2 linked regions of the Homo sapiens genome follow. The protein of the gene in region 2 purifies or fractionates together with the protein of the main gene of each other region. This does not show direct contact. Each region holds a gene or a part of one and is shown on either strand. Other genes may lie near its edges.

What was found.
Region 1: the proteins of SLC6A14 (region 2) and ATP6V1A purify together in Homo sapiens (affinity purification with mass spectrometry; one large-scale study listed by BioGRID and IntAct). This does not show direct contact.

Annotation. Positions count from the first base shown.
Region 1 is NC_000003.12:113,749,984-113,753,641, reverse strand, and holds part of ATP6V1A (V-type proton ATPase catalytic subunit A), read right to left. Parts: intron 1-3,658. UniProt on the Homo sapiens protein: Catalytic subunit of the V1 complex of vacuolar(H+)-ATPase (V-ATPase), a multisubunit enzyme composed of a peripheral complex (V1) that hydrolyzes ATP and a membrane integral complex (V0) that translocates protons.
Region 2 is NC_000023.11:116,453,481-116,457,138, forward strand, and holds part of SLC6A14 (sodium- and chloride-dependent neutral and basic amino acid transporter B(0+)), read left to right. Parts: intron 1-843; coding exon 844-962; intron 963-1,496; coding exon 1,497-1,596; intron 1,597-1,876; coding exon 1,877-1,986; intron 1,987-3,658. UniProt on the Homo sapiens protein: Amino acid transporter that plays an important role in the absorption of amino acids in the intestinal tract. Mediates the uptake of a broad range of neutral and cationic amino acids (with the exception of proline) in a Na(+)/Cl(-)-dependent manner.

The DNA of each region.
Region 1 (3,658 bases), on a different chromosome or scaffold from region 2:
CAGTAGATTTAACTCCTACCATTTAATCACTTCACAACATTCCATAAAATGCCTCGGCCATAATTTACATAACAATACCCCTATTAACAGGCATTCCCTTTGTTTCCACGTTTTTTGCCACTACTAACATTGAAAATTGAAACACTGTTGCAGCTAACACTCCTGTAAACTCTTACTGGTGCTTTTATTTCTAAGGAAAAGATTACATGGAGTTAGACTGATGGGTGGAAAATACATGTATTCTCAGTATTAACTGATGTTGCTTGATTGTTTACTAGGAAAAACTCTAACACTTCACATCTCCGCTAGCATTTTATGAGATAATCCTTCTCCACATATCCCTGCTAGCAGTAGGTTTACCACTTAATTTTTGCTTGTCAGAGAAATAATATTTCATTGTTAGTATATTGATTACTAGTAAGGTTACACATCCTTTACTGTTTGTTGAATGTTTGGATTTCTCTTCTGTGAACTTCTGGTGACATGTTTTATCCATATTTTTACTGGGTGAACTTTTTCTTAATTGGAAAGAGTTCTTTCAATGGTTAACTCATCTGTTACATATATCTCAAGCCTTTTTTTCCGCCTGATTTTGTCTTTGGTCCTTTATTTTTGCCACTAAAGAATCCTTCGTTTCCATGCAGTCTCATGTGTCTATCCATACTTTTATGACTTTTAGGTTTCCTATCTTGGTTTAAAAAACTACATCTGGATTGTTTGTATAAAGGAAATTTAGGAGATTAATATCTTAAATATTTTATTGTTTACATTTAAGCCTCTAATCCATCTGAAATCAGTTTTTGCATCTGTTGCAATGTATTGGATCAATTATATTTTCTTCTAGATGAGCAAGTTGTATCAGTTAACATTTATGATATATATGTGCCCTTTTTCACCATTGGATTGAATTATCCCTTTGAAATGTGGTAAATTATCTTATATACTGAGATTTACTCTGCTTTTTAAAATTCTGCTGCACTTATATACTTAAAATTAAAAATATATTTACACACCTATAAAATTAAATAACTTACTCAGCTACCTGGATGAGACAAAACATTTTCACTTAAGATATCCAAGTAGTTAAGATGAAAGAATTATTTAGGTGCCTTAATTTTCCATATCAAATTAAGAAATATTTTGCAATGCCTACTGACATTATGAATTCAAATATACAGAAGGTATAGTAATAAATTTTAATTTTTTCTTTAATGCATCAATCTAGAGATAATTACTTATTTTGATGCATTTCCTTACAACTTTTTCCATATGTATATACTATTATTATTATACATATGCTCTTTTTTCAATTTTAAAGGTATTTTCCAATTCAATTAGTCTTCTCTATTGTACCTTTAAACATTAAAAAAATTAAACTAAGAACTAAAAACTTATAAAGTCTGGTTGCTTTTCATTGCTCAAGCACATCTGAAACTCTTCTATATCATATCATATACCACCCATTTTATTTTCAGTGAAATAAGCTTAATTATTTTTCAGAAAAGAAACAAAATGTGGCATGTTGCAGATAAAATTTTTTTAAAGGCTTACCAAGAGAACAGTTTCAACAGATAGCATTAAGATCCAAAACTGAAATTTTTGTTGTTAGTCATAATAATACCAAAAATAATAGTGATTTTTAAAACCTTAAGATATAAGAAAGTGTTTCCTTCTAAAATTTAAATCTGAAAATACTTATGATATACCATTAATTTTTAAAAACAGCTAATCACAGTTGTAAATTTATTAACTAGAGCTAACTACAAAGAAATATACAGAAAGAGGAGTTTCAAATGTAAATAAATCATTATTCTAAAGATCACTTCAGTAGTTTCAGGTAAAAATAAATATGTTACTACGAAGATACACAACCACTTCAGCTGTCTTTATATATACATACACACACATTGCGTACTTTATATACTACAAATATTTACTCTATATATAGTATATACATAATATGTATATACTAAATATAAATGAATACACTTATAAAAACCAAAGTCGCTATCATTTCACCATAGGGAAAAAAGAGAATAGCAAAACTAATATTCTCTTCAGAAATTATATGGAAAACATTTTTATTGCTCACATTTCATTTATTTAAAATAAAGTTACTTAGTATAAAGAATAAATTCATTCCTAAATCAATAAATCCATTTGTTATAATAGACAATCAACATTAAGGAAAAGTCAATAAACTTAATAAAATCTTTCCTTAAGACAAATGAGTAATTTTTTTTTTCAGGAATAAAGTGATTCATAAACTCATGATAGCTATACTTACTGTTTAATTTGCTGATATTTTCCATTGCAAAACTACTAACCCTTGTGAATCATGAATTTAAGAAGGGAAGAATTTTACTCTAGTTTATGTCTCCATTATGTTCTCTACATTTCTTTGTCTATTTCATATAAGGATAAAAATAAGATATAAAAACACTTAATTTTTTTAAAAAGACAAAATTTTTAAGCTTATAAGCATTAACTCAAAAGTCCCTGCTCTACAATCTGTACAATTTTAATATACTTCTATAATCCATTGCAGGAATAAAAACTTCAAAATTGAAGAACTGCCTCCTTAAATTTATTCCATACATTAATGATTACAAGCTTTGGAAAATCTTTATATAGAAAATATTAAGACACTGCAGTTGCCCAAATAAGGGACTTTATCTTGATATTTTTCAGATAAAATTAATAAATCTGTTTTAGAATCTTTGCTACAAGTACACTTTTCTTGTTCCCCCATTTTTTGGGTAATAGCTTCTTTTCAAATTCTACTCTCTTCTTCATGCCCCAAACCTGCTGCTCACAGGGACATCAGTCAATTCTGTGGGTTGTCTTAAGTCTTTAGAAATTCAGTATATAAAATCAAAGTAGTTATCAGTAAAATTAATTAAAAATTTTTTTTACAAAATATGTTCTAGGCATTTTACATTCATGATCTAACTTAATAGCACCATCTATAGATTTAAACGTGAGAAAACTTAACCTTACTTAAGTACACTGTCCAAAGTCACACAGTTATTAAGTGGTAGGGCCAGAACTTCAACTAGGTCTCTATGACTGGGAAATCAATTCATGTAAAGTCTGAGCTACACTGCTTTACCATTTTACACACCACTTAGTTTTTTTTGTTTTTGTTTTTGTTTTTTTTGAGATGGAGTCTCACTCTGTTGCCCAGGCTGGAGCGCAGTGGTGTGATCTTGGCTCACTGCAACCTCCACCTGTCGGGTTCAAGTGATTCTCCTGCCTCAGCCTCCTGAGTAGCTGGCACTACAGGCGCGTGCCGCCATGCCTGGCTAATTTTTTTAATTTTTTTAAGTAAAGACAGGGTTTCACCGTGTTAGCCAGGATGGTCTCGATCTCCTGACGTTGTGATCTGCCCGCCTTGGCCTCCCAAAGCACTGGGATTACAGACACCACTTAGTTTTTAAGATATTTTCACATAGATTACCTAGGGTTTATGTCATAGGAAGGTTCCTAAGTATCAAACCTGAACCCCTCCCCAGCATTACGTAAAAGGACATATAACTAAAGTGGCAGAGCTGAATGAAGATCCTCTGACTTTTAGTCTAGTGCTAGTCCACTTATAGATCACGCAGAGCCACTTTTTCATTTAGTACGATTCATTCCTCTTCCCTTCTCTCCCATA
Region 2 (3,658 bases):
TATACATTTTATATGTCTGTACATATCATATACATTTTTAAATTTGCACATAAATGTGAAGTTTCAGAGCATGCATATGACTCTGAAAGTTGTTTTTGCATTGATTATGAATCCCATTGATACACAGGCATATAGATCTAGTTAAATCACAATCTCTTTGTTGCCATAATAATGGGCATATGAATGATATACAATTTTTTAAAAATTACACACACTGCTGCAATGATCATCCTTGCACATACTTCTATGCACACGTAGGGATTTACCTAGGTTACATGACTAGAGAAATTCTGAAACAATTTTCATCCTACCACTCTCTCACACAATATTTTCAGTTTACTCTGTTTATAGGATAAAATCTAGACTTTTCTGGTTGACTTTCAAAGTCCTTGAAAATCTCAAACATATTTTCTGATATTTTCATTCTCACATCCTTCTACTCTTAGCCAGTTCCCTATTTCATGAACACATTTATCTCTTAACCTAGAATCCTTTCTGTTTCCACACCACTGATTCAAATATTTACCTTATTTAAAAGTCCTACTAGAATTCTTCCTTTTAGACTAATTCAGTTCACAGGGGACTGTTACCTTACAGTTGTTATCGATGAAAAATCATATAAAGCAGACTAAAAACAGCAAATAGCGCTGCATTTGATTTTCATCAGAACCAAGTGGTGACTGCCAAAAGAAAAAACCCTGTGGGTTTTTAAAAGCAGGGAACAGGGCTCAGAGTCTATTTTCAACATATATTTGTAAATTTGATTAACATACATTGAATTCTGTGATTAACAGTATTGGCAAATAAGTTGACATATAACATGTCATTTCTCCCCCTCTGAAGAAACGATCACAACAACAATTCAAGATTTATTTCCCAAAGTGATGAAGAAAATGAGGGTTCCCATAACTTTGGGCTGCTGCTTGGTTTTGTTTCTCCTTGGTCTCGTCTGTGTGACTCAGGTATACTACAGCATTTTTTTTCATAGAAACATATTAGTTGGAACATACTTTATAACCTAACTAAAGAAACCAAAGCTTAAGAGGATGCTTAGTGACAAGTCCAGGTCTGACTTGGATCAAGGTTTTCTGGGTTTTAGCCCATTTTTCTCCATTATTACTTTTATAGAAAGTCTATTTTGCAGATGAGGAGGCCGAATAATGGACAGTTACTTCAGTTACAATAAGATTACAGACTTTAAACACATACTACATTTCTCACAGCCACTTCAGAACATACAGACATTGCATACCATTCTGATAATCAACAAATTTAAGTGCTTATTTTCTTTCCAGTGACTCAGTATAGATTGAAAGATTCTTGAGATATTTAAAGTCACATTTGAGTTTACATTTGAAACATTGCTTTTCGCATTTTAGCAGAAGGGAAACTAAGGAGCATATGTCAAGATCAAATAAATAGATTCAATTTGAATATCCCATCAATCATAAAAACAATTAAAATATACTTAGAAGTAATTAACATTTTTTTGGTAGGCTGGAATTTACTGGGTTCATCTGATTGACCACTTCTGTGCTGGATGGGGCATTTTAATTGCAGCTATACTGGAGCTAGTTGGAATCATCTGGATTTATGGTAAATAGTAACTATAAAATTATTTTCCAGTTTTATTAAAATAGTTTAGTTTGATTCATTTTCATTATATTTACCTAATTATACTATTAATTTTTATACTATTATAATAGCAAAGTACAATATACTGCACAACATTATGTTATGTAAAAATATAATTACAGGTGTATGATTCATTGTTGTGGTAGAGAAAAATGTTTAGACACAGAAAGATAATTGATGCCATAATGGTTACTGGAAGAAAATATTAGCAAGCACTCAATGTACTCTTTGTTTTCTTTAGGAGGGAACAGATTCATTGAGGATACAGAAATGATGATTGGAGCAAAGAGGTGGATATTCTGGCTATGGTGGAGAGCTTGCTGGTTTGTAATTACGCCTATCCTTTTGATTGTAAGTAATAATACACCATGAACTTGATTTCGATAATACATATGTTCTAAGATAAACTTAATAATTCACATTGAAGACAAAAGGCAAATTAATTTTATAAAGGAATGATTTTCAAGTTTTGCAGTATTTATGGCTGGTGCCTCCAAGTTGCCTAAATTAAAATGCCTTTGCAGTATTATTTTGAGGCCATCAGTTTAAACATTTACCATTTGAGAAAATAAACAGGTTCGTATAGATGTAAAAGTTATCAGTAATTTAAAATTTATCAATACAAAAAATGAAAATAAAACATGAATTTGCTCATTCCCTAAAAAAATATGTTGAGCCATCAATAATATTCCTAACCTCTCTGCCAGGCACAGAAAAAACAAAGATGCATAAGGCCCAGATCCTCTCTTCAAAGAATTCAGTTTAAATATACTGACTGCTGAGAAACAACAGTCATATTTTAATTCATATTTTATCTCTTAATGAGGGAGGTATTTGGCAGATGATAGTAAAAGAAACTTACCTGTGTCAATAAGGGCAATGGTTTATGTCAATAAATTCAACAATTAATACTATTTAGAAGCTGAGGTAAAGCAAAAGTATGTCTTACTCGAGAGACATAACTTATCAACTTAAAATGTTCAAATAACATTTCAGGACAGTAAATGGCTGAGCACCAAAATAAACACTACACTGGAGGGAGAATGATTATGGACTAGAAATAATGGTGGTGGGGTGAGGCAGTGTCAAAGCTTCATAGATTTATTTTGGTTTTCATTGCCTTCATGCTTCAAAGGTTTTCCTAGAAAAGACCATTAAGTAATTCTATGCAGGATTTCCTTCAAATCTAAAGTACCACATTTGTTTGTAGAGAGGATTACATTTTTTTTTTTAACATTATGAGATCACTTTCAAAAGCTGAGCAGTTTGGAACGAGATCATGGTGAATTAAAATATTTGGATATTCCATATTTTTGCTAAATGATTTTGAAAATGACACTAAATATTTTTATTTGACAAGTCTCCATAATAAAGTAAGCCCCCTTGTCAACTTAGAAGGTCTAGCTGGATCACTTAACAAGCTAATATTCAATGATTACATAAGTTTGACACCTGAATTTAATTTAAAATGCAAAAGTATTAGATATGAAATGATTTACATTGCCATCTATTTTTTATAAAGTCATGTGTATTGGACTCCACTATCCCTCATCCATTCTTTTGTAGTTATGTACATTCATAGTAACTGTAAAGTATATTTAAATTACTGTAATTAAATTAATGGAGCTAAGCCATTTAATTTTAAAATTAAACATAGATCTATTTATTGTTTTCTCGCTGATTTTAATAAAACAAAAACAGCTAAATTTAAGGAAGCTCCTTAATAATTATTGGGTTTTGTTTTGTTTTGCTTTACCAATTTCTAATTAATTAGTTTTAATGCTTCAACATTTCGGGTTTATTTTAACTTGGCCTTATAATGTGTTCATCTTTAACATTCAGATTTGACTGTATTGCCTAAGCAGATATTGAGGGTTTTTTTGTTTGTTTTTTGTTTTTCCCTCAGTAAGATGCTGGAAGTGAAATGTGCTTTGGTAAATGCTCACCAATAATGTGTGTAAATGCATGTGTGTTTTTGATGTGTCAAAAGGGGATCTTTGTGCAGTGGGAAAGAATAGAAGCA